3 separate regions of the Homo sapiens genome follow, and all the other regions are linked to region 3. The links come from fine-mapping of genetic effects on gene expression. Tissue or cell type: whole blood. Region 3 holds a variant in brackets; each other region holds the start of a gene. All regions are shown on one strand. Distances are from middle to middle.

Region 1 (8,106 bases), 80 kb after region 3:
AGAGCATAAAGCAACGGCCATCACACTTCACCCGGGAAGCTGATTTTAAAATAGAAAACCATAAAAAGTAAAAATAAAAACCTTTTGATAAAACCACTAGCAAACTCCATTTTAAAATTAGTTTCTGGCGGGGCACGGTGGCTCACGCCTGTAATCCAAGCACTTTGGGAGGCCAAGGTGGGTGGATCACCTGAGCTCAGGACTTCAAGACCAGCCTGGCCAACATGGTGAGACCCTGTCTCTACTAAAACCACAAAATTTAGCTGAGTGTGGTGACGCGCACCTATAATCCCAGCTACTCTGGAGGCTGAGGCAGGAGAATCGCTTGAACCCAGGAGGCAGAAGTTGCAGTAAGCCGAGATTGTGCCACTGTACTCCAGCCTGGGCAACAGATTGAGATTCCATCTCAAATAAATAAATAAATACATAAAATTAGTTTCTTAAAAAAATCTTTTAGGAGCCATAGAGAGGGCACTACAAGGCTTTAGAAAATAGACGCAGGTTGACAGGGACAGAATCAGATGGGAGGTGCCTGCAGAATGCCTCTGAGCCACTTTTGTGGAATTCTACCCTATGTTACCAAGAGCCTGCATTTTCTGATGTGTTCTTGCCCCAACCTCCTGGCTATATTTTTGGGAAATACATAAGCACAGGGGTGGATTGGGTCTTACTGGTCTTGGCAAAGCATAATGCCAGCCCAGAGTCGGATGGGGCAGCATTTTAGGAAGGAGACCACGCCTTTGAGGTCAGCTCTATGAATACCCTTTCATCATCCATTAGAGCAGCCGGGCTTTCTAATTATGCTCCTTTTCACTGTTCTGGTATTGCTGGAGTCAGTGTTTTTAAAGTATAATACCAGGTGGAATTATGGAGAAATAATGCCCTGTAAGTAAAACAATACTTTATAGGTATTTAACCAAAGGCTGACTGTGGAATATTTCCTGGAGTTTCAATGCTGAACAGAGCAATTTCTATATATAGCGCCCCTTTAGCAGGTAGAAACATTTGCTACAGTGTCTGCAGCACAGCTGGCGCCCAGCAGTAGAACTGTCCTAATTACACTATCACTTCAGGCTAACTACGGATCACTGGAGAAGTGGATGCAGGCTTTTTCCTTGGCGTGTTATAAATATTTCATTCTCTAAATTAAGACACCAGCCCTAAATATGTTATCAAAAAATAAATTAATAGTAGTAAAGCAGGAAAAAAAATGTACCCCAATCATAGCAGAAACTAGCTGAAACCAGCCTCAGTCCACATAATGAGTTTTGGGGAGAAATAAGTGTTCTCTTTCCAGGATTTTTAATTGGAAATGTAAATAACTACACAGGGATAAGGAATGTAACGCTACTATAAGCCCCCCGGCAGGCTTAATTAGGCATGTTGCCCTTCACTGCAGAAGAAAAGTGAAAGAAATACAATTTTTAGGAAAAAAACGTTTAAAAGTAGCATGAAGAAGGCATCCATGCACAACACAGGGCGTCATGAGAAGTCTCGTCCTGAGAAGTCCCGACTAATCCAAAGCCATCCCAACTTTTTGGAGACCATTAATGAGCCCAATCTAGCAGACATCTCACTGTAGCAGTTCGGGGTCTGGCTCCCTTCTCTGGGCTTTCTTCCATGGCCACACAGTCTGCGAGACTGAGCTTGCGTTTTAAGACTGCGCTGGTTCTGGAATTACGCTCTCTTCAGATTCAAGACAGCAGAACAATAGGAGTAGCATGCTAATAAAATGCTTGACTGCGAAAGGGAACGGCACTGAAAAGAGCTGTCTCTCACGAGGTCCTGGGAGGCAGCTCTATAAACACAAACTACGCTGTGCCAAAGCTCAAGCAGCCCGAACCCAGGCTCAGGATGCTAGCGAAAAGCCTCCCAGGTAAACACAACGGGCCCACAAAGAGGAGGAGCCGCCCCCTCGGGGACACGTTTGCCATTTTACCTCTACACCTCCCCTCCCCCGAAATAAATAACACACACACACACACACACACACACACACACACACACGGAGTGACTGGTGTAGACACCCCAGGGAGGCATTCCGGAAGGTTTCTGAAGAGTGAAGTGCAACCTACCAAATTCTTTCACGGGTTTACTTTCCAACTCTGGCTTTGGCAATTTGAAAGAAAAAAAAAATCAAAGCCACAAAGAGCAAGGCTGGGCACTGCTCCGATGTTACACCTACTAAGTCTGACGTGGTAAGGAAAACAGTCCAGAAGCCCCACAGGCGGGCCGCTGCAGGGGAGAGGGGCCGCCGCGTGGAGAAGATGGGAATCCGCGGCGTCTGGCACGGGGCAGCAGCCCCGGGAAAGCCCTGAGGAGCTGCCTTCCTTTCGGGGAGCCTTCAGGGGAGCACCGCTGCCAGGCCCTCACGGGTGGGGGCGCACCCTCGCCGTCTCCTTGGGTACCCCTAAGACATGAAGCCCTATGGAGACAGGAGACGCCAGAGGGGCCCGGAGGACCCTGGTCAGAAGGAATATGGGGGCTGTCTGTGGCCCACACTGCCTTAGGAGTGTGATTTTGTTCGGAAAATTAACTCTAAGCCACCCTTTGGCTGACAGATGGAGAAACTGAGGCCCGTGAGGGTGAATTAGGGACCCACACCGACCAAATAATAAGCCAGAAGGCAGACTCCGCCTCCTGGTCCTAGGCCCTTTCCTGAATTTCCCCCCTTCAAACTCCCAGGTCCCTGACGTCCAGGCAACGCCAACCGTCCTCCCTTTCGCGCTGGGCGCAGGCCGCCCTACCTGCCGAGCCGTCGGGGCCGTCTTTGTCCGCCCGGCCAGGCTCGCCAGCGCCCTGCTGGCGGTCATTGTCGCAGCCGCCCTGGTCCAGGCGCGCCTCGGCGCTGGAGCAGCAGTAGCGCAACGCGCAGCTGCCGCAGCAGATGGTGGCGTCGCCGCCGTCGAAGCGCTCGGGACACTGGAAGCCGATGCGCCAGACGCCCTGCGCGTCCAGCCAGCCGTGGCAGTACTCGCCGCTGGCCCTCGCCCCCGCCGCCAGCAGCGCAGCCAGCAGCAGCTGCAGGAGCGAAGCGGCGTTCCAGGATGAGGAGACGGACGAGCGGCGAGCGCCCCACATGGCACCACCCTGGGCGCGGACAGCGCGTCTCCAGAGAGCGCAGGACGGTCTCCGAGAAGTCGTGGCCCCGGCGACCCCCGGGCCTCGTCACTGACTGTCCCGCGGCGCTTTCCGCGCGGGCCACTCCCCTCTGCCGCGACGCCCAGGAGGCGACGACGCCGGGCCCTAGGTCCAGGAGCTCCTAAGCCATCCCCGTCCTCAGCCGGTGGCCCGGTCCCCTTAGGGACTGCCTTATGAGTTGCACTCGCTGATGGAAATCTCGGGATGCAGTCAGAAGGCCCCCGGGGCTGTCGTCCGGAAGCCTCTGGAGGTTTCACTGGCAACCGGACCCTCCCTGAGCATCCCCGAAGGGATGCTCACTCGAGCCGAATGACCGCTGGGCGCGCCGCCGCGGACCTGGAGCCAGGGCTCTGCGCAGGGTTTAAGCCTCAGGGTCCCGCGCGCGAATCAGGGCCCGTCTCCCCTCCTTTATTCCCTCCTCGGGCGGGTAGAAGGGGCGAAGGCGGGCAGTGCACGCAAGGCTCTGGGCAGCAAGTGACGCAGCCGGCCGCGCTCAGCCTCCTCTGCCCCGAACTTGGTCCGCATGGCTCCGGCCGGGCCGCCCGGGCAGCCCACGGGGGTGCAGCCCCGACGCTCCACTCGGCGGGGCCGACGGCCAATCTTCCCAGCACGTCGCCGAGGGAGCGCTCCTGACCCCGGGAACGTCCAGGACGCAGGCGAGGGTCCTGCGCGCCCCCAGCCGCAGTCCCGGGAGCCTGCCCAGCTGGCGGCGGCCGCGGCTGCTGCTGGGCGCGGATCCAGGCGGGCGGCTCGCCCCGGTTCCCCTTCTCCGCCTCCCCGGCTGCAGCGCGGTCCCACAGGAGCCCGGCAGCCTCCGGCCGGCTCTCCCTCTCCCGGTCGCTGCCTCGCCCTCGGGAGGTGTGCGCACCGATGGAAGCCTCCCACGGAAGTTTCTTTCCTCCGGGCTACGGGAGAAGCCGAGCGCAGCAGCCGCCCACAGCCTCGCCTCGCCCCGCCCGGCGCCAGACCAGCTCCGACTCCGCTCGCTGCCGCGCTGAGCCGCGCTCTTATAGAGGCCGGCGGCTCCCCGGCGCGCATGCGCGCTGCGCGGCTCCCCCCCACCCCCGACCTCAGGGACGCCCGCGGGCGCCGGGCAGCCCCTCACTTTCCTACCCCGGGCAAGGAGAAAGGTGTGGCCAAGGGCGGGGTCTGCCTGCTGGAATAGGCGCGGGAGGAAACCCAACCTAAGCAATCCAGGCCTCGCTAACACAAATAACAATAATAACGGAAGAAACTCAACTTGCTTTGTGAAGATCTTTGGCATTCAACATTCGGTTCGATTCTGCAAACTTCTCAAGGGATTATGATTACTTTCCACTCTGCAGATCATAAAATCGCCACTCAGATGAACTCTCTCGGCTTCCAGCAGCTGATGTCCTGGCCACGGTTGGTCCCAGGCCCTGTGCAGGAAGAGCACCGATGTTTGTGGCAGGGTTCACACGCCTAGGGCTGTGTTTGGTGGACTGGAGGCCTCCACCACAAGGTGGAACGGAGAGAGTTCAGCAAAGATGTCACACATTCGGCCACGGTGTGGATGATCTGTGTCCCTTTTTCTTTCTATATTTGGGTGTGGTGATTTATCGGATTCCAGCAGGAAAGTGCCTCCGTCCAACATGTGGCCTTAGTGGTTTAGACAGCTGCAGTCAGGAAGAAAACAAGGTTCAGACAGACCAGAAATTCAGCTTTGATGAAGGAGAAATTAATAGCTTCTCTCTTGCAGAAGCTGGAACAACAGGTGCTGATGTTATTAAAGCAGCAGTGCTTATTTTTAAAGGAACGAATGCCCCTTCCCACACCGTCTGGGAGTCAGCAGACCTGAATTCTAGACCCAGCCCTACTAGCAGGGAATCACTGCGTTTTTCTGGTCTCAGTTTCTTCATCTATAAAGTGGAGCATAGGATGTGACGATCACTAAGGTCCCTTTCAAGTCCATGACTTCAGAACACAGGCAGTTTTATTCACAGCAAAGACACTCAGGTTCAAGCAGCCATTGGATGCTTGTGTATGCCTGGTTAATGTGAAGATTCAGACATTGTTGATTATTCTTCCACTTGCCCCAACAATGTCAAATCCAAGAAAAAAAACCCTACCCTATGTCCCTGCTCCCCAACACACACCTTATTCTTTTCACTAAACCTCTCTCCAAGCATTGCACTTTGTTTTCTTGCAGTTTTTTGGTTGTGTATCGTTTTAAGCTACACAAAATTATATACTTTAAATGCACTATTCACCAAATGTCTTAAGCTAGTAAGCTAAAAAAAATTTCAATGTCAAGAAATCATTCATTCAAGAAATACACGCCATGCACTTACAGTGTACTGTGCTCTGTGCTGGGTACTGGGACTCATCAAGAAGCCAGACAGCATGGCCATTTCCTTCAAATAGGGCCTAAAGTCTCCAGGGTAAAATACAGAAATCAGACAAAAAGACAAAGAACTGAATAAGCAAAGAGAATGCAAGTATGATCAAAGCTCTTACCCACAATGAGAACAGCATCAATTTAAGCACATAATCTAGGTTAGGGTGGGGAAGGAGGTCAGAAAAATCATCAAAGGAGTAACACTTAAAAAGAGACCAGAAGAAGCCAAGGGAAGATTGAGTTTTTCAGAATGAGTCATTTTCTTAGAAGACACCATTAGCCAACATTTATTGAGAGCTTACTATGGGCTAGGCACCACGCTAAGAATTTCATGTGCATGGTTTCATTTAATCCTCACATCAGCCCTATAAATAAGACAGTATTACTATCCTCATTTTACTGGTGAGGATACTTGCTCAATCCCTAAAGATAGAGAGCGTCGGTTTGCCTGGACTGCACCCAATTCTTCCTGACTCCAAACCCCACTCACCGCACTGCTGATCACCACAGCCGCCACTACAGAAAGCCCAGGATTGATTAACTGGGAGTCCTGTACAGATCATGAGATGCTCCTATGGCAGCACGAGTTGATTTGGGTAGTGTTCAGAGGGTGAATACTTTCAATTTTGCCATTTGGAAAAACAATTAATGCGAGAGAATTGTACTTATTGTTCTATTTAGAATTGTATTATTTCAGACAGTACCTATGCCTATAACCTCCTTCCAGGATCCACTTATCCTACTCACCAAAACATCCACAATTTGTCAGAGTTTATTTATGAAGAAAAAAAATTGTTTAACATTTCATATTGGAATTGATTTGGTGACTGGATAGTGCCACCTTTAAAACACAATGTTTTTGCCAAATAGTCTACAATTTAATCTATAATTGGTGAACTTAGAAGTATGGCGCTCTGAGCAAATTCGTCTTTTTTTTTTTTTTTAATTACTGTGTTTCTTTTCTTCCTTAAAAGTTAAGGAGAGGCCCTTTCATAGTTACTTTACGTAGTGGTTGACTGTCTTCAATGCTGAAAGGTCCTTTATGTCACTTTGTCTCTCTTGTATTATCGTTTCTTTGTGTATCTGGAATGTTGAACTGAAATTTTATAAAATAACTTGCCAAGTATTTAGTGAGGTTCTGCATGGGAGGTGCCACTGGGAGATATTAAAATAGGCTTGTTCCTTCCATAGGAAATAAAAAGAAATTCCCTCATTGGTCTTAACAGACAACCAAAACTATTTCACTCGTTTCTTCTGAGAAGCTATAACTAGTAATTACAACATATAGGTAGTAGTAATCATAATTTATGATAATCAAAATGAAATGTTAGGCAGTCTGCCAAAATATATTGAAAAACATATGAAAGAGTGCAGCCCTCTTTTTAAAAAAGTTGAATTCTATAGTCACTAACTGAAAAAGTATATTTTCAAGTTATTTTGCCTTTCAGTATGTGCCTGTGCATATATATATAAATATATATATGAATAAAATCCAATTGATTTAAAAGCAAACTTCTGACATATCTTCACTAGTACAAATAGCAAGTCATATAACTAAAGAAATGATTACTTACAACTTTACTAACTGGAGTTGATACAAATCAGATGGAGGTAATAATATTTCATTTGGCTGGCAGTTCTAAAAGCTGCAAGATCTACAGTGTTTTTCTGCAAGTTTCAGCAAGAGCAGAAGGTTCTTACCATCTGCACATCCATCAGCAGTCTGTTTAGGGAGAATGGCTTTCACTGGGTTCATTCATTTTTTTTTCTCCTCTTCTCTCATAAATAGAAATAGTACTGAAAATTGGCATTTGGTTTACCAAAAGTTCTTTTAAGTTAGAGTGTTTTTGTGAAAACCCAAACAAATATATTAATTTACATTTATTTTAATTTTGTCTTCTGTTTACCTAAACTTATGTTCAAAAATGTTCATAAATTTATGAAAAAAAATTGTTCTTGCTTTAAAAGTTTTAATTTTTCACCCTCCTTATTTTTATTGTAATTGACATACTGACTTCCAGAAAAGTAATTTCCATATTTTCAATTATATTTCTTCTCATTTGTCATTATAAACTATTGACATAGTTCTCTCTCATCCCCCCTCCTTACTCCATTGTTTTACTGAACCCCCTTTAATTTTGATTTTGATGTTTACTATGGATATATTTCCATTTTGGAGATATGGAGTTTCACGGAGGGCTTATTTCACTAATGCCTTCCTATCTAAAAGAATGGCATAAACAAAAGCAAAATGTGCGAAGACTTGCAAATCATATATACGAAAAGAGTCTAATATCCAGAATATAAGAGAACTCTTACAACCCAGAACAAAAAGACAACCCAACCAAAAAACTGGCTTGAATAAACATTTCTCCAAATAAGATCTACAAAAGGCCAACAAGCACATGAAAACACCTTCAACATCATTAGACGTTAGAGAAATGCAAATCAAAAGCACAAGATACCACTTGACTTTCACTAGGTTGACAATAATAGTAATGATAATGATAATGGGAAATAATGTTGGTAAGGTTGTGGGGAAATCAGATCCCTTGAATGCTGTCATTGATGGGAATGTAGAATGGTTCAGCCACTGTGCAAAACAG
Region 2 (8,106 bases), 600 kb before region 3:
ACTGCTTTGTTTCCTAAACAGGAGAACAGGTACAAGGATGATTGGTACATGCTTACGTATAATTTTTAACATGCTACTTATATGCCATTTTCTTTTTAAAGTGTTTATGTAGACAGATGCGGTGGCTCATGTCTGTAATCCCAGCACTTGGGGAAGGTGAGGCAGGAGGATGGTTTGAGTTCAGGAATTTGAGACCAGCCTGGGCAACATGGTGAAATCCTGTCTCTACAAAAAATACAAAAAGTAGCTGGGTGTGGTGGCACGTGCCTGTGGTCCCAGCTATTTGGGAGGCTAATGGAGGAGAATTGCTTGAGCCTAGGAGGTTGAGGCTTCAGTTAGCCATGTTCACACCAGTATACTCCATCCTGGGCAAAAGGGTGAGACTCTGTCTCAAATAAAAAAGTGATAAAATGTTTACACATATATACATATATGTATACAGATATAAAAGGTAAAGACGCACACATAAGCATTTTAAAAAGGAAATGGGGCTTTTTTAGTTTGAGGAAAAGAAGGGCTTAAGAGATGGCTTGAAGTCTTCGTTTGTATAAAAGAACTTCTTGAGAAGGATGCCAACTGACTGTTTTCTAGGACCATGAAGACTAAAAAGGAAGGATAGGCTTAAGTTAAAATAGTAGAAATTTAAGATGTTCAGAGGACAAACTGCTTCAAAACACTAGTTCTTGAACACTGGAGTGGGCTGCCAAGAGAAGCGATCTGGCCTCTCCTTCCTTGGGAATCACCGGGAAAGGGAGAGGCAGCCTCTGTGCCGTCACAGCACTGGAGGGTCGGATCCTCTCCTGGGAGATCAGTCTGTCTTGGCTCAACTTATTGCATAAGGAGAGGGGCACACAGAATAATGAGAGGATGACGACAGCTGCCTTTCAGGGAAAGAAAAAGAATTCTCCCTTTCCCTTCACTTCCTCCTCCAGGAGGAAAGGGCTGCTCTGGCTTAGTTAAGTTCAATGACACTCATCGACCCACAGTGCTAGGGACTTGGTGTGGCTCCTACTGGGGGCTGCAGGCTGCCTTTCTACCTGTCTTGTGAACGCGTAGGGTCGTGGCTCTAAGAATTGAGGCAAACTCTCTTTGTTGAGGAGTTCTTGCTTTCACAGACAGAGCACATTTCCCTGACTGTCCTGGTTGCGGTGCCTTTTGCGTTTGCTGTTTCTCCTCACAGGCTTCTTTATCTCCTTTGGTTCTAACCTAGGCTGCCTCTGGCAAGGGTGAAAGGATGTCTCCAAGCCAAGCCTGGGTCACAGGGTGATCCACATCGGCACTGGATTCTAAGCATAATAATAAATACTGTCCATTTGCTAGCTTTTGTCCTTTGTGCATATATTTCCCTTGAAGACCTCAGAGATGGGATTTAGGTCTGACTCTGGCCAATGCCAACCTACTGATCTCCCCAACATTCCAAGAGGCAGTCAGATCAGGGGAATTAACCAAGACATCAAAGAGACAACACAAGTTGCTGTGAAATATTCACCTACTGCTCCTTGCAGTCTATGCTGTGATCTTCAAGGTGCACCAACTGAGGTATATTTCACACACCTACAAAGCTGTCAGGGCAGTTTGGTTATTGGAAGATAAACATAGAAAGAGCAGCAACAACTCTGTTTCATGATGGGGCTGCACAAAGTCAGGGTGGGACATTTGGTCACTCTTCAGTGATCAAGGCAAATATTCTATATATAACATACTCTGCTTCTTAAAAATTAAAAATAACCTTTATCTACTCTTTCTATTCCCACCTAAGTCAGAGCAAAAAAACCCAAAATGTTTTCTATTTATCTTGAAGTTTGGGGATTGAAAAAAACCACATTTTCCTTTTAAGTTCCTTTCAATTCTGGTTAGGTCCTCAAGGTGTTATCATAGACAGAAGATTTACTGAAGCATAGTGACAAGTTTTTGACAAATCCAGTCCTAGGATTAGCCCCAGCTTTAAGATTTATCCTCAGCAGCAATGAAGATCCACTGAGAAAACCTCTCCCACTCTGAAGCTTAGCTCAACAATTTAGAAAATTTTATTTTGATTCATCTTCCTGATAAAGATTCATTTCTTATCAGAAAAATTTTTTGAGGGCCCAGAAGAGACAGGTAAAGAATCCTACCTGAAGCTACATTTAGTGTAGATTCTTGCCAGCCTGCAGTTTTCAGTGTAAGTTGCCTGTCCCTTTGGATGTTGTTTTTTGTTTTGTCTTGTTTTGTTTTTGGTGGAGTCTTACTCTGGCACCCAGGCTGGAGTGCAGTGACATGATTTCCGCTCACTGCAACCTCCACCTCCTGGGTTCAAGCGATTCTCCTGCCTCAGCCTCCCGAGTAGCTGGGACTACAGGCACCTGCCACCACACCCGGCGATTTTTTTTTTGTATTTTTAGTAGAGACGGGGTTTCACCGCGGTAGCCAGGATGGTCTCCATCTCCTGACCTCATGATCTGACCGCCTTTGCCTCCCAAAGTGCTGGGATTACAGGCGTGAGCCACCACGCGCGGCCTGGATGTTTGTTCTTAAGAAAATTAGAAGCAGAGGCCGGGGGTGGTGGCTCACGCTTGTAATCCCAGCACTTTGGGAGGCCGAGGCAGGTGGATCGCCTGAGGTCAGGAGTTCGAGACCAGCTTGGCCAACTTAGTGAAACCCCGTCTCTACTAAAAATACAAAAATTAGCTGGGCGTGGTGGTGGGCGCCTGTAATCCCAGCTACTCGGGAGGCTGAGACACAAGAATCACTTGAACCCGGGCGACGGAGGTTGCAGTGGGCCGAGATAGCGCCATTGCACTCCAGCCTGGGCAACAAGAGCAAAACTCTGTCAAAGAAAAAAAAAAAGTAAAAGAAAATAAAATCAGATGCAGAGGCCAGGCAGGAGGAGCTCAGGCCGCACTGCTGTCTTTGCTAGCACAGATTCTTTTTGCTGAACTCTGTACTACTCCTTGTCAGTCCCTAATGTTAATTTAGGTTAAAAGAAATGTAATGCTCGCATCAGTAAAAGCAAGGTCAGACTTTCACCTGAACAGTTTTATTTTTGTTTTGTTCCGTTTTTACTCCGAGGTCAGAATGTCATCAGGCACAATAAAGATAGCTTCTTATCTTCATGGGATTGTGCCCAGAAAGACCAAGCACAGTCTAAACATTACGCGATAAGAAAAAACAAAAAATAGATCAAGTGACCTTGGACAAGTCATCTTACCTCTCGATGGTTTTGTTTTATGAAAGAAGGTGTGTGTGTGTGTGTGTCGATGGGTGTGTGTGTGTGTGTGTCGATGGGTCTGTGTGTGTGTGTGTGTGTGTCGATGGGTGTGTGTGTGTGTGTGTGTGCGTGCGGGGGTTGAGAAGGTTGCTGTTAAGGTTCCCTAGGGCTACCTGCAGCTTTAATATGCGTAGTTAGAATGTCAGGCAGGTTGTGGAGAGTGGGGGGCTGGAGACCCCCGACTTCTCTGAGTGCCAAGCCACACATCAGACACCTTGGAAATAACCCTTCCACGAAGTCCCTACACAGATCCCACCAGGCTGGGCACGGAAGAACAGAAACTGCGAAAAGAAAGGGACTGGATGAGTCCTGGGGAATCACAGCGCCTCCACTTGCACAGGACAAGTGACAGGCAGGTAAATAGGTAGCAGACAGGCAGAGACTCCGAGTCCCCCAGGTGCACCCCTCTCCTGGAAGAGCCCCCGAAAGTACAGGCCCAATCTCCCACCCCACCAAGCCCTCCCCATCGCCTTCCCCGACACCTAAAAGCCCCGGTCCTGCGTAATATTGCGGATCCCTCCCAGCCTCCCGTCCGCTCCTCCTCCCGCGGGGCTCCGCTCAGGGCCGGTCCCCCGCCCCCACGCCGCAGCCCGGGCCAGCGGGGCCCGCCGCGGTGGCGTTCGCGGATGCTGCCGCATTGGCCGCTGCGGCACGGACGGCGCAGCCTCGGGCGCGGCCCGGCACAGGCGCCGGCGGTCCCCGCCAGCTAGCAGCCCGGCGAGGCGCTGGCCCACCCATGGTCCTCGGGCGGCGGCCCCTGCGCCCAGCCCTGCGCGTAGCCTCCGTCTCTCGCCCGGGGCCGCCGAGCCCCCGACACGGGCGAGATGCTGAACGGCGCAGGCCTGGACAAAGCTCTTAAGATGTCCCTGCCGCGGAGGTCGAGGATCCGCTCGTCCGTGGGTGAGCTGGGAGGGGCGCGGCGAGGGAGGGTGGGCCCGGGGCGGGGGCGGCGCGGGGCGCGCCTGCGGTTATGCGACACTGCCCCGCCCGCGCCCCGCTCCCCTCCCTGGGCTCCCTGGGCTCTCTGGGCTGCAGGATCCGCCGACGCGGCGCGCTGGCCGCACGGGGGCTGGGCGTCGCTGCACCTGCGGGGCCAAAAGGCTCCAGGCCGGGGCGAGGTGAGCGGCGGGCGTCAGAGACCCCCGGCTCGTCCCTGTACAGATGTGTGTGTGTGTGTGCGGCCTCCCTGTGCGCGTGCCCGTGCGCCCCTACGCGCGGATGCGGCTCAGGGATGCGACCTAGGCGGCAGTCACCGCGATGGTGGGCACGGTTTGGCGGCGCAGAGAAGATGCAGCCTTCCCTGCCGGCGGCCGGCACCGCTGTGCTGCAGAGCTCAAAAGCAGAGGGGGAAAAAGGCATCCGAAGGGTCCCTCGAGTGATTCTCACCACTTGGAGCCCCGGGTCCTCGCGCGCTCACAGCGGCGACGTACTGGCTCATAACCATCCGTGCATACAACCATCTGGAGACGAACACACACACGCACACGCGCGCGCACACACACACACAGGTACACACACACGTACACACGCACGCGTACACATACCCTGCCTGCAGGCGCCTGGGTGTTGGAACTCGAAACCTAAAGCCAAACACGCATGTACCATACCCGACCACTCACACTGTTAGAGGCCCGCGTTCTATGATTATAGAACACATTTAGAAACTATGATGTCGTGGAGCTGGATGTTATGTGGCTATGACACTTGATAGGGTTACCTAGACCATTAGTTAATGCAGACGTAAAGAGGAGCCCCAAAAATGATTTCTTACCGTTTCAGGACTGCGGCAAGTTTGCAGGTAGATCTTTGACATGAGGAAGGTAGAGGGTGTACAGTTTGGAGCTGGGGTCACTTGTCTTCGTGCTTTTTTATTTGTTTTGAGAAAATAGGCACATAAAAATAAGCGACTTTTGTATTTCTGTAGTTGAGTAACGTGAGAGGGAAGCAAGCTTATCAGGTAATTTAAGCCAATGTTTGTTAAACTTGGGTAAAGTCAGGACACTTTCACATTCATTTTGAGGAGAATCCCAGCCTGAAGGGGTCACGGGGTGCAGGGTCAAGACTAAATAGCAGGGAAGAGCTGTGGCAGAGAGACAGTGGGAGGGCGCAGTCATACAGGTGTGAGAATTTCCCAAGGTGGAGGCAGCCTGAGGAGACCTGGGGACACCCTCTGTACCTTTGCAGGTGGGGCCAAAGGCATTTGCTTATGATTTGGATGTGGGGCTTCAGTACAAGAAAAGAATCAAAGATGCCCCCAAGGGTTTTGGTCTGAGACACCGGAAGAATGCACCCCTTGCTGAGATGGGGAAACTGCGGAGGACCAGGGTTCTCTTTTGCGGTAAGGGAGGGTGTGAAGAATTTGGTCTGAAATGCCTACCATAGATCCAAGAGGAGATGATTAGTAGAGAGCTGGATTTATGAGTCTGGGGCTCCGGGGAGTGTGCAAGGCCAGACATAGAGATTCAAGAGTCGTCGGCAGGACCGGCTCCAAGAGTGTATGCCCTGCAGCTGCTCAGAGTCTGGCTCTTACAAGAGTCAGCACTTGCTTGGATGTTCTGCCCAGTGTTGCTGTCTTGAAAGTCTTAATTTTTGAACAAGGGGCCCACCTTTTCATTTTACACGGGCCCCTAAGAATTATGTGATCAGCTGTCAATGTGTACAGATGTGACTTAGAAAAGAGGGGTCCTTGGATAGAGTCCTGGGCACTCTAACATTTTGAGGTTAGGGAGATGAGGGTCAACAGAAGGGGCCTGAGAGGATGGCCAGGGAGGTCCCCGGAAACCCGGAGGGAGTGCTCTGAAACTCAGTGTGGAGATGTTCAGGAAGGGGTGGGGTGTACCTGTGCCCAGTGCTGCTGAGCTCAATAAAGATGAGGCTGGAGAACTGTCATGTAAGTGGAGGTCACTGGTGATCTTGAAAAGAGCTGTTAACATATCATTGTGGGGAAGAACGCCTAATAGAGCAGGTGTAAGAGTAACAGGACAGGAACTGGAAACAGCAAGTCCGGAAAACTCTTTTGAGTGAATATTGCAGAAAAGGCAGGGGGAGAAGCAGATCGAGTGGTAGCTGGAGGAAAATGTGAGTTCAAGAGAGGTCGCTTTGTTTTGAGACTGTTCTACAGTCTGACGGCATGAACATCAACGCAGGAAGCTTTTAGGGAGCAGGGGGGAAGGCAGTGATCTGAGAGTAACCGTGAGAAGCAGGGTCCTCCTGGCAGAGCAGTTAAGGCAAGAAGTTTCAGGAATAGTCAGAGGGGTCGGGTTGTGAGGGATCTTGCTGATGATAGGCTGAAAGTTCCAGGAGACAGAGTGGAGGCTCTGAGATGGGGCCTGTTTAGGGTATTTGCATAATGTATGGAGAAGAAAGAGGATCTGCATAGTGTGGGCTCCTGGGGACACTGATGGAAACAGGGGCAGAGGGCCTGACAATCGTGTACTCCCATAAAAATACTAAACAAAGATGTGTGATTTTTAGTGAAGTCTGCTACTTCTCATTATTAAAAAATAAACTAATGATGAAAGGATTGCAGATCACAGTCAGCTTCAAGAGTATATGCTGAGCTGTATACTATTTTTAAAAATAATTCTGGAATATTTTCTTGTCTGAGCCATCTTTGACTCTTATCTTGTTCTGCATATTCAATTGCACTTTGATCAGTTTTAGCTTTCCCCAAATATCTACTTGGTGCCAGTGTGTCTCATTTTACCAAATGATGAAAATCCAAAGATTTGTGACCATGGGGATCCTCTTGCCCGTATAGTGCTTACAGTCTGCTCAGGGTGGAGCCCCTTAGAATGGAAACAAAGTCAGTGACAAATATATATCAGTGCCTTCTATGTGCCCGGCATGGTTCTAGGTGCTAGAGACAGAGCAGGGAACACAGCAGTGTGTCTCACAGAGCTTATGGTCTAGGCAGTGACTACAGTGCACGTGGGAAGAGCTCTCAACTCTCTTCTCTCACCTTGACCCAGATGAGTAAGGAAATTAAGGGTGTACATGTGAATATGGGTGTTGGGGGTTGTGGGAGGGGAGGAGTGGGGACAGAAAGGAAGGAAGTTGTTTTCTATGGACGACAGCATCAGTGCTGTCTATGGCAGAAGCTCTTCCCTATCTTACCGCATTTCTGGACTTAGTGAAAGAACGGGCAGGCAGGAAGTGCACAGACCAAGTGCAGAACCCAGAGGACTACAAATATTCTTTTTTTTTTTTTATTTTGAGCCTGTCGTCAGGCTGGAGTGCAGTGGTGTGATCTCGGCTCACTGCAACCTCCGCCTCCCGGGTTCAAGCAATTCTGCTGCCTCAGCCTCCCAAGTAGCTGGGATTATAGGCTCCCACCACCACACTCAGCTAATTTTTGTATTTTTAGTAGATACGGGGTTTCACCATGTTGGCCAGGATTGTCTCGATCTCTTAACCTCGTGATCCACCCACCTCGACCTCCCTAAGTGCTGGGATTACAGGCGTGAGCCACCGTTTGGACCAGGACTACAAACCTTCTAGAAACTGCCCCTGGAGCCCTCCTCTAAATTCCACACCCAACTCACCCTGCCCTCTGCTGGTCATCAAAGGTATTTTTTAATGTGTGTTTTCTGTTTTTGCCAGAACAACCTGCCCCAAGTTTCAAGGAGGAGAATCAGGGCAGCTGAAAATACAAGCCGTGCTAATGTGAGAATGTAATAGCTGGAGGATATCTCAGAGATGGTCTGATCCCTTCACTTTACAAATGAAAAAAAAATTCGGAGAAATTCCTTACTTGCTGCTTAATTTCTGTCAGGACAAGCTAATTAGCAAGTCCAGTGTGGTTCTTATCATTGCCCACCTGCCTAGTTCAATATCAGATCTAAATGCAACAGAATACG
Region 3 (8,106 bases):
GGGTCCTGGTACATAGCAGGATCCTCACATGTATTTATATTTAAATTAAACCGATGCAAAGCTTTTCAGTCTGGTGTGTTACTAATTTTTGAGCCTTTTCCCTTTGCAGTTTTTTTCTCTTATATAACCTATATCTGGTTAAATGTCTTTTCACCTAGACTGTTTCCAACTAGTAGCTAGATTGTTTCCAACTGGTAGCTCACTTTTAGCTTAGTTTAGTTTTCATTTTATAAAGACTCTGAGATTGGCCAATTATTTGAGCATTGTGAGGTATTCATCTTAGTGTCCTCAGTAAAAGGGTAGAGGGAACTCTTCCTACCATTCAAGAAGAGTGAGCTGTCCAGGCTGCGGGTTATTTCATAAGTTGTATTAATGTCACTGAGGCCTGCGTGTGTGGACTCCAATGGTGAGTTGTTGCCAGAGGAAGATGGGAAACCTGCACTCTGGATTTGTGTTGACTCCACGTTTCAAGCCTCTGGTTTTGCATCCAGACCATGCACTCTAGCATCCTAAGCCCCGTGGCTGCTGTGGCAGTGGCTCTTTTCACGCTAAAGAGGGAGGGAGGAAACTTGCTAACCCCTGGGCTCTCTGACTGCAGTTGGGGTCCTTGGACCAGGGAACCAGTGCCTGTTCACTAAGGTGAGGGTTTAAAGTGTCTTCTTGGTTTTCAGTTCCTGACAAGAAATGCTGTAGAGGTAGACCCTGGGTCTTCGTGAACCCCACCCAGTCTTTGAGTGACTGGGCTGCTCGGCCGACTTCCGGTTCTTTGCGGGGTGGGGGTGACTCTTGACATGCATGATCCGGGTCTGGTCTGCAGCACTCAGGATACTTCCGGGCTGTGGAGATGGAACCTGGGTCATGCATGGAGACTGTGAAAGCTCCACCACTTCCCGAGCCTCGGCCTCCACCAAAGGGCATTTGGCTGTGGCCTGAGAGGGGAGCGGCCTGTCTTTCCCAGCTGTGTCAAGTCTCTATGCCATGTTCGTTTTGTCTTTTCCTCATAACACAGAGCCAAGCACACCTGCAAAAAGACATTGCTGGAGGAGGTGCAGGAGCTGGAAACCAAGTCTCGAGTCCTGGGAAAAGCGGTGCTGCGGGATAGCAATGGAAAGAGGTGGGGAACTCCGTCCCAGTCCGCACAGAACACAGGTGCTCCCGGCCCTTTTCCCTTATTCCTTCCTGTATTTCTTTTTCTCATCTTGGTTTTCGATGGGAGCACAGTATGCTCAGGCTTAAGAATTTTGGTTATTCTCAGATTTAAATCACACTCTCAGTGACTACATGAAACCTAAATCTCTGGAAGTCTCCAGGTAAGACTGGGGGTTTTATTGGGTTTAGAAGTGAGCAAAACAACTCATGTGCAGAAAATCGATGTTGTGGCAGTATTATCTTAAGGTGGAAGAGTCCAGAGTTAGCAGTATTACCACAGAGGAGTTAAAGCTAGGCCTTTGAATTTCAAACCCAAGTACTGTACCCAAGGATGAGTATCTACAGTGTGAAGGTTTGCATGTGAAATAATGCATGTTGTTATTCATGTAAACCTGTTACATTCCACTTCAGCATATCTAAATGGGGGAGTAGTTTTTAATGCTAACATTTTCTGCTGGGAGTGAAAGGAATCGTGTGAACTCCTGGAACAGACACTGCCGCTTGCTCTCCTAATTCCTCCTGAACATGAGCCTGCCCTTCCCCACAAGGAACAGCTGGGTCTGTGTGCAGTTTTTGTTTCATCACACAAGATGTTAAAATGTTGTTAGAGTGCACTCTGTTAAAATCTATGTACCATCAAGGGAAATTTCTTTGGGCCTGAGAACAATTTGCAGGGTACTAGAAAGCCATTGCTCTATTAAGGACATGGAATATCTATAATATTCTGAGTACAGCTCTCCTATAAATGCTTAGAAGGAAATCAGTAACCAACTGCTAATGAAACAAACATCAAGAAATCAAATACTTATAGAGGTCCCCACTTTGTGTTTTGCTTTATATTGTGTTTATTTGTACCATCTTTTAAAGCAATGAAGACAAAATAATTTTTTTGTTAAAGAAAGAGAATGCAAACATTTTGAGAGGCTTTCAAAATACAATTTCAAACAGATTTTAGAAAAGGGATGATGGCATAGAGTTGAAGTTGTGGTTTTGTATTTATTTATGAGTTATTTTTTAGTAAGTTTATTAAGCATTCATTTTATAGCAGCTATGCTAGCCACTGTAAAAAATCATCAGTCAACAAGACAAAAAGCACTGTCTTCCATAAGCTTAAGTTTGTGAATACATGGGGATGGGGGCTGATTTTACCGCAGATGTACATATAACCACTACGCGTGGTTGAGGCTTGTTCAGGGCTGTTCTATCCATCAGACAGCTGAGGCATAAGGCTCAGGACCTGTTAGAGTTTCAGGGACCTACCGTGCTCTTTGAGACCTGAAAAAAAACATATTCATAAGCTCCAAAAATTAGGGAGCAGGAAACATTGCATAATGAAATTAATAAATGTTTAAAACCCTATAAAATGCATATCACTCTTAACCGTTAAGTTTAGTAAGGACAATAAGTTTATTATACTTAGAAACAACTTACAGGCTCCCTTATATATCAAGTATACACAATGATTGCTGAGGGGGCATAAGTAATTTCTAAGTAAAATGAGAATTTCAGAGCAAAACTCTCAAACTCCTCTCAAACATTTTACAGGACGACATCACATATAATGTGGTGTGAGAATGTGCTTTAGAGTGTTTGTTCTGATGTGGGGAGGGGTCATCTGGCTTGAGCAATCAAGAAAGGCTTCATGTTGGAGATGGATGAACAACAGGCTTTTGAGGATGGGAGGGTCTTGAATGGACAGAACTGCTGAGAGTCTGATTTGGGCAGAGGGAGTGGCACATGCCAAGGCTCAGGTCCAACACTGTGTGCAGGGACCAACCACCCAGTTTGGAGGGCCACATGCATTTTGCAGAGATACAGAACCTGCGTTTGAATTCTGGCTTTGCTACCTACCGGTGAGGCCTTGTGCAGGATATTTCATATGATCAGATTGTCTCTTCATCTGTCATAGAAGAAGGCTAATATTTTCTTTGGGGGATTAAGGTTCGTGAAATATGTACAACGCAGCATATTGCCTGACCCATCTCAGGTGTGTAAAAGGTCAGCTGCTCATCTTCACTTTGGCAGGAGAGTCATGAGCTGTCGGCCTTGAATTGTATTGAAGGAAGTCGTGGGCTGTCAGCCTTGAAAGAGTGTGTGAGCCCATTTTTGCTTGTTGTTGATAAATGAATGTTATTTTTAAAATTCACTTATCCTGTTCAAAATTCATTTTTAAATGTTCAAATGGATATCAGAAAATAAGAGCTTAAATGCGGTTTCCTACCGTCTACATTTGAAAGTCTTATTTTCTGGTTCCTTGTAAATTTCACTTTGTAGTTCATATGATGGGGTGTGTGTGTGTGTTTCTGTGCACGTGTGCGCGCACACATGCACGGGTGGGCCTGCATACTCCCGTTTGGTTGCACCATTTTCCTTTTCTTCTAGTCCCAGCATCTTGCTTCACTTTGGAATTCCTAGCCAGAACACAGTTTGGGGGCTCTGCCGCTCATCCTCCTCAGTGACCCCCTCCCATTTGTTTTTCTCACTCCTAATTACTCACAGATTTTCTGGGTGGTCCATCTGCAAACTGGATAATGGTGGCGTGCTGCTCTCTGCACAGAGTCTATGCTGTCCTGCTTGGCCTCCTAAGCTGCCTCACAATTGTTCTCTTACAACCTTTGTTTTCTTCTTTCACACCTGCTTAGATTCCTGAGGGGTGGAGGGTAGAGACTAAGAAGTCTGTCTTCAGCTCTGTCCTCCCTTCTAAAGATCTTATAGACCCCCACCTCTTTGAGGGGTCCTGAGTGTTTTTGTCTCTTCTCACCCCTCCCTGTTCCTTCTTTCCTACCCTCATCTGAT[C/A]TTTCAGCTGATTTGTGTATCTCTCTAGCTGTTAACCGCACAGGAAACTCTGTCAATATTTGCTGGCTGACTGACTGGCAATACCAAAGTCTAGTGAGGTGGTAGTGAGGAAAGGACGGTGACTTCAGTGCCAGATGAGCTGACACACTGGTGCCTGTGTGTCAGCTCGTGTGTCGGATGTGCACAAAGTGGCCACAGAGAGATGCTGACAGTCACCGGGCCTCCAGGGAGGGGGCAGTTTATCTCATTGCTTGAGAGTACAGCTAACATAGACTCACACATGGAGAGGCATCTGTGATGTAAGATTAGCAAATCTTACCCTTGCAAAGATGCACAGGCCAGGAGCCCATCCTCCCTGAAACCCACTCCCTCTCCTGCCTTCCTGTGCCAGCCAAGCCAGGGCACCCCCAGGGGTCCTCAGCATCCCTAACCCCAGGGGCTTACTCAGCTCAGTCCTGACAGCATTGCTTAGGGCCCCTTAAAGGACATTCTGCCAGGTCATAAAACCCAGGTCCAAGTCACTGGCAAATATTCTAGCAGTTTTTCTTAGGAATGTAACCACAGGAAGTAGAACAAAAAAAATCTGTATGCATTAATCTTTTTAGAAAACCCTCTTGTACCAAATTTACAATTACAATTTTGAAATGGTAGCCAGGGATTCTAAGTTTCTCTCTGTGCCTTTTATTCATTCAATAAAATATTTTCATCCAACATTTTATTGAACTTGTCTAAGCCTCATACTTTTATACTATTTTGATAAAGTTAAATTTTCATGAACATGCTTCTGCACTTTCTCATTAGTAGATCTTGTCTTCCAAAATCAACCTGTGGAATTGATACTTTAATAAGCCTGTTCTCATGAAGAAGCAGATAATGAGAAAGGGTGAGATCAGGGAATTAGATATCCAGAAAGCACAGTGAAGAAAGTGCTTTAGGGAGTGAATAAAATGTTTGTCTTGATTTTAGTTTGTTCTTCTTGAAGGAGTGTTTTTCACGATGTGGTGTTTGTGCGCCTTATAGACACTGGACACGTGTGACTGTTGGGGTTGATCAGAATACCTTTTCCCAAACTGTCTTCCCAGTAATCCCTACCTGGGGAAGCAGGAACCCCCCCGCACCGCACATGAAATAGTCTACCCTGCATGTCGTTATTTTGAGTGTCTAAACAATGAGGAGCTAAATGGAAGAAAATTCTTTGTTTTTTAATGTCTTGGTAATATCTTTCCTTTCTTTATTCCTGAAGTGTAAGCCATGCAAATTTCTTTCCTGGTGAAAGAAAATCTATCTGTGGCCACTCACTTTTACAGATACAATATAAACCGATGACGGCGTGTAAGATGACAGACTTTTGTTCCTTAATTTTTTTTGGAATGAGATAAGTGGTTGCCCTGTAATATTTTAGGTACAATGGCAAGCAAGAAAAAAAAGGGGGAATATATTTGTTGAAAACATCTAGTTTTTGAGTTATGCATAGCCTGAATAAACAAGGAGAGCTTGTTCTATTTCTAGATCACCTTTCACTCTGTTCATCCCAGTTGGTGGGAGTGGGGTGGGGTGGGGTGAGCCCAGGGCTGATATTCTCCATTGTCAAGGGTAAACAGACCCGGTTGCTGCCCCTGCCTTTGCCAGGAAGGCAGTGGATTATCTTCCCCTTAAGTGCTTTCCCTGGGTGTAGCTTACGCTGTGACTTTGGTGAAGGTAGCTGTGTGGCTGGTCTTAAACCTTCTGGCGAGCCGTCGCCTCGTCTCCCTTCGGTTTTGTGTTCTGTGAACATCTGTGCGTGGCCCTGTGACCCGGGGTAATCTGGACGGCCCATCACCGCCAGGGAATTCAGGAGGGAAACCTGACTCTTGCTCTGCGGCTTCCATTTCATCCAGGCTGCCTCTAAACAGGCAGGGCCCTGGTCACAGCCTTGGACAGGTGGCCTGGGATCCTAATGGAGCTCTCTCTGCCGAAAAATAGGAACAGAGCCTGAACCACAGCAGCAAGATTTCAGACAAACCAAAGATTGTTCCTCCACTCCAGGCAGTGCTCTCGAGTGCTCCTTTGAAAACCAGTCGTATTAAAAAAATGAAACAACACAAACTCCCGAATGCATTCTGAGTGAGTACTCAACTCAAAAATACCTGTCATGCTTTGATCTTTAACGGAAATCCTTTGATCTTTAAAACAGTGTTGAAAAAACTGTTTAGTATCATCACACCTCTAAGTCAAAATCAGTCCCACTGCCAGGCTGAGCATGTCGCTGAGCCAGCCTGAGGCAGGAGGGATGCAGGCCTTTTGCACCGGACTCCAACAATGACTGCGTCACTTCAGGAAATCGGTTTTTTCACAGTACTGGCCGTTGGCAGTGCACATGTGGTGCATCTCCCTTTTGCTTTTGTCCCACCTCTCCCACACTTTCCTCCTAAAATACCTATTATTGGCTTTTTTTCCAGCCAAAAGGATAGGAAATTAGGGCATCCTTTCAGCAAACCTCTCCAGGCCAGGTGGCAAATGTCTGCTTCCAGCACCTGGTTGAGATTTATTTTCCTTCCAGCTGCATTTTTTTTCCTCAGCTCTGTCATGAAGCAGAGAAGCGAGTGCAGACGGCGGAGACAGATGACCTGAGCTGGGCTCTAGCTTAGCTGTGTGGCCTTGGCTGGGTTATTAACTTCTCTGAACTTCAGTTTTCTCATCATACATTCGCTTTGAGGTTTAAATAAATAATGCAGATTAAATCTATAGCCTATGTAGATGTTCAGGAAGCGTCCCCTAACTGAAAAGCTGCATAACAAGTACATTTCACTGGCCGTGTTTACCATCTAACATGTAAGCCTGGGGAAGATGTGAATGCAGCAGGCTCTCCGAGTTGCATCGTCGGGGTGTGCCCCCTAGTCTGAGGTAAAAGGGAGAAATCTAACAGAATCCCAGGGACATGGGAGTGGTGTGGACGAATGGCCGTAGTGAATGTTGGATGGGGGTGTGGTGGGGACTGTAGTGAGTTCTGAATCTTGGTGGTCTCCTCAAGACAGCCTTTGGATTACAGCTTCAAGGAGCTCCTCTTTGTGAAGAGGACAGTGTACCCAGTCCAGGCTGTCCCTTCTGCCCCAGGATCTCTCGCCAGCTTACCCCTGTCCATCTGAGCTGCAGTCTGTCTGTAACGTCTATGCCGGTCCTTGCCACTCCTCCCCAGAACCAGCCCTTCCTTCGGAGTCTCCTGCTCCATCGGGATGAATTTTTCCCACACTGCAGACTCGCTCTCAGTGTCCACACTGTCCCCTCATGTCCTGCGCATCCCTGGGTGCCAGGTCTCGGCGTCTTCCCAGCATCTGCACAGTCATCCCCCCTGGTCCCTTGGGGTGGTGCCTGTCCCTCTTCACCCACCATCCCACAGCTGAAGACATCCTTTGTGAAGCACAGCCTCATCATGCCACCTTCTGCCCTCAGCCCACCACCTGCTGAGCCAGTGCAGACCAGAACCACAGTGATTTCCGCCTCTGCTTCTCTTCTCACGTGTGCGACCCTCAGCTTCCACCTCCCCTGTCCTCCCCACGCTGTGCCCTTCTGTGGTTGGTGCTACCCTTGGCTCTTCTTGATTGACTGGTTTTATACGATGGTGTTGCACTGTGTCCCAAGCACTGGGCCACACGTGGGCTACTCAGGGGCAGCAGGACAGGCCTTGTCCTGGGAACAAATGCCGTCCACCTCAGGACACACTCTCTGATGTCACCAACTTCCCTGCTGTGCTGATGGCAGCCTGAGCTTCCCTTAAAACACTCATTTTAAAAGTTTTATTTTCGACCGGTTGCGGTGGCTCACGCCTGTAATCCCAGCACTTTGGGAGGCCAAGGCGGGCAGGTCACGAGGTCAGGAGATGGAGACCATCCATCCTGGCTAACACAGTGAAATCCCGTCTCTACTAAAAATACAAAAAAAAAAATTAGCCGGGTGTGGTGGCGGGCACCTGTAGTCCCAGCTACTCAGGAGGCTGAGGCAGGAGAATGGCGTGAACCCGAGAGGCGGAGCTTGCGGTGAGCCGAGATCGCGCCACTGCACTCCAGCCTGGGGGACAGAGTGAGACTCCATCTCGAAAAAAAAAAAAGAAGTTTTATTTTCATTATTCAAATATTCAAGCATACATAGTAGTAGGGAGATGAGCACAATAAGCTCTTATGAAAT

Evidence for each region. PIP is the estimated chance that this variant, and not a neighbour inherited with it, causes the effect.
Region 1: it holds the start of SHISA2, and the variant in region 3 is fine-mapped to the expression of SHISA2 in whole blood (TOPMed, PIP above 0.99). The same link has a PIP of 0.9 or more in T cells and blood mononuclear cells.
Region 2: ATP8A2 starts here. The variant in region 3 is fine-mapped to the expression of ATP8A2 in whole blood (TOPMed, PIP above 0.99). The same link has a PIP of 0.9 or more in T cells and blood mononuclear cells.

The regions. Positions count from the first base shown.
Region 1 is chr13:26,047,895-26,056,000 of GRCh38, forward strand. SHISA2 (shisa family member 2) reads right to left here and starts at 4,122. Exons shown (of 2, transcript NM_001007538.2): 1 at 2,748-4,122. The coding sequence starts at 3,081. It overlaps LINC00415 (long intergenic non-protein coding RNA 415), which reads right to left. Exons shown (of 2, transcript NR_146971.1): 2 at 4,382-4,778.
Region 2 is chr13:25,368,142-25,376,247 of GRCh38, forward strand. It overlaps ATP8A2 (ATPase phospholipid transporting 8A2), which reads left to right and starts at 3,833. Exons shown (of 37, transcript NM_016529.6): 1 at 3,833-4,147. The coding sequence starts at 4,072.
Region 3 is chr13:25,967,566-25,975,671 of GRCh38, forward strand. ATP8A2 (ATPase phospholipid transporting 8A2) reads left to right here. Exons shown (of 37, transcript NM_016529.6): 35 at 1,010-1,114. LOC105370122 (a long non-coding RNA gene) reads right to left here. Exons shown (of 3, transcript XR_941764.3): 3 at 8,015-8,106. Among named protein-coding and RNA genes, the nearest start is that of SHISA2, 80 kb to the right of the region's middle. RefSeq lists enhancers at 6,848-7,387, 7,388-7,926. The variant C/A (reference allele first, on the strand shown) is at 3,946.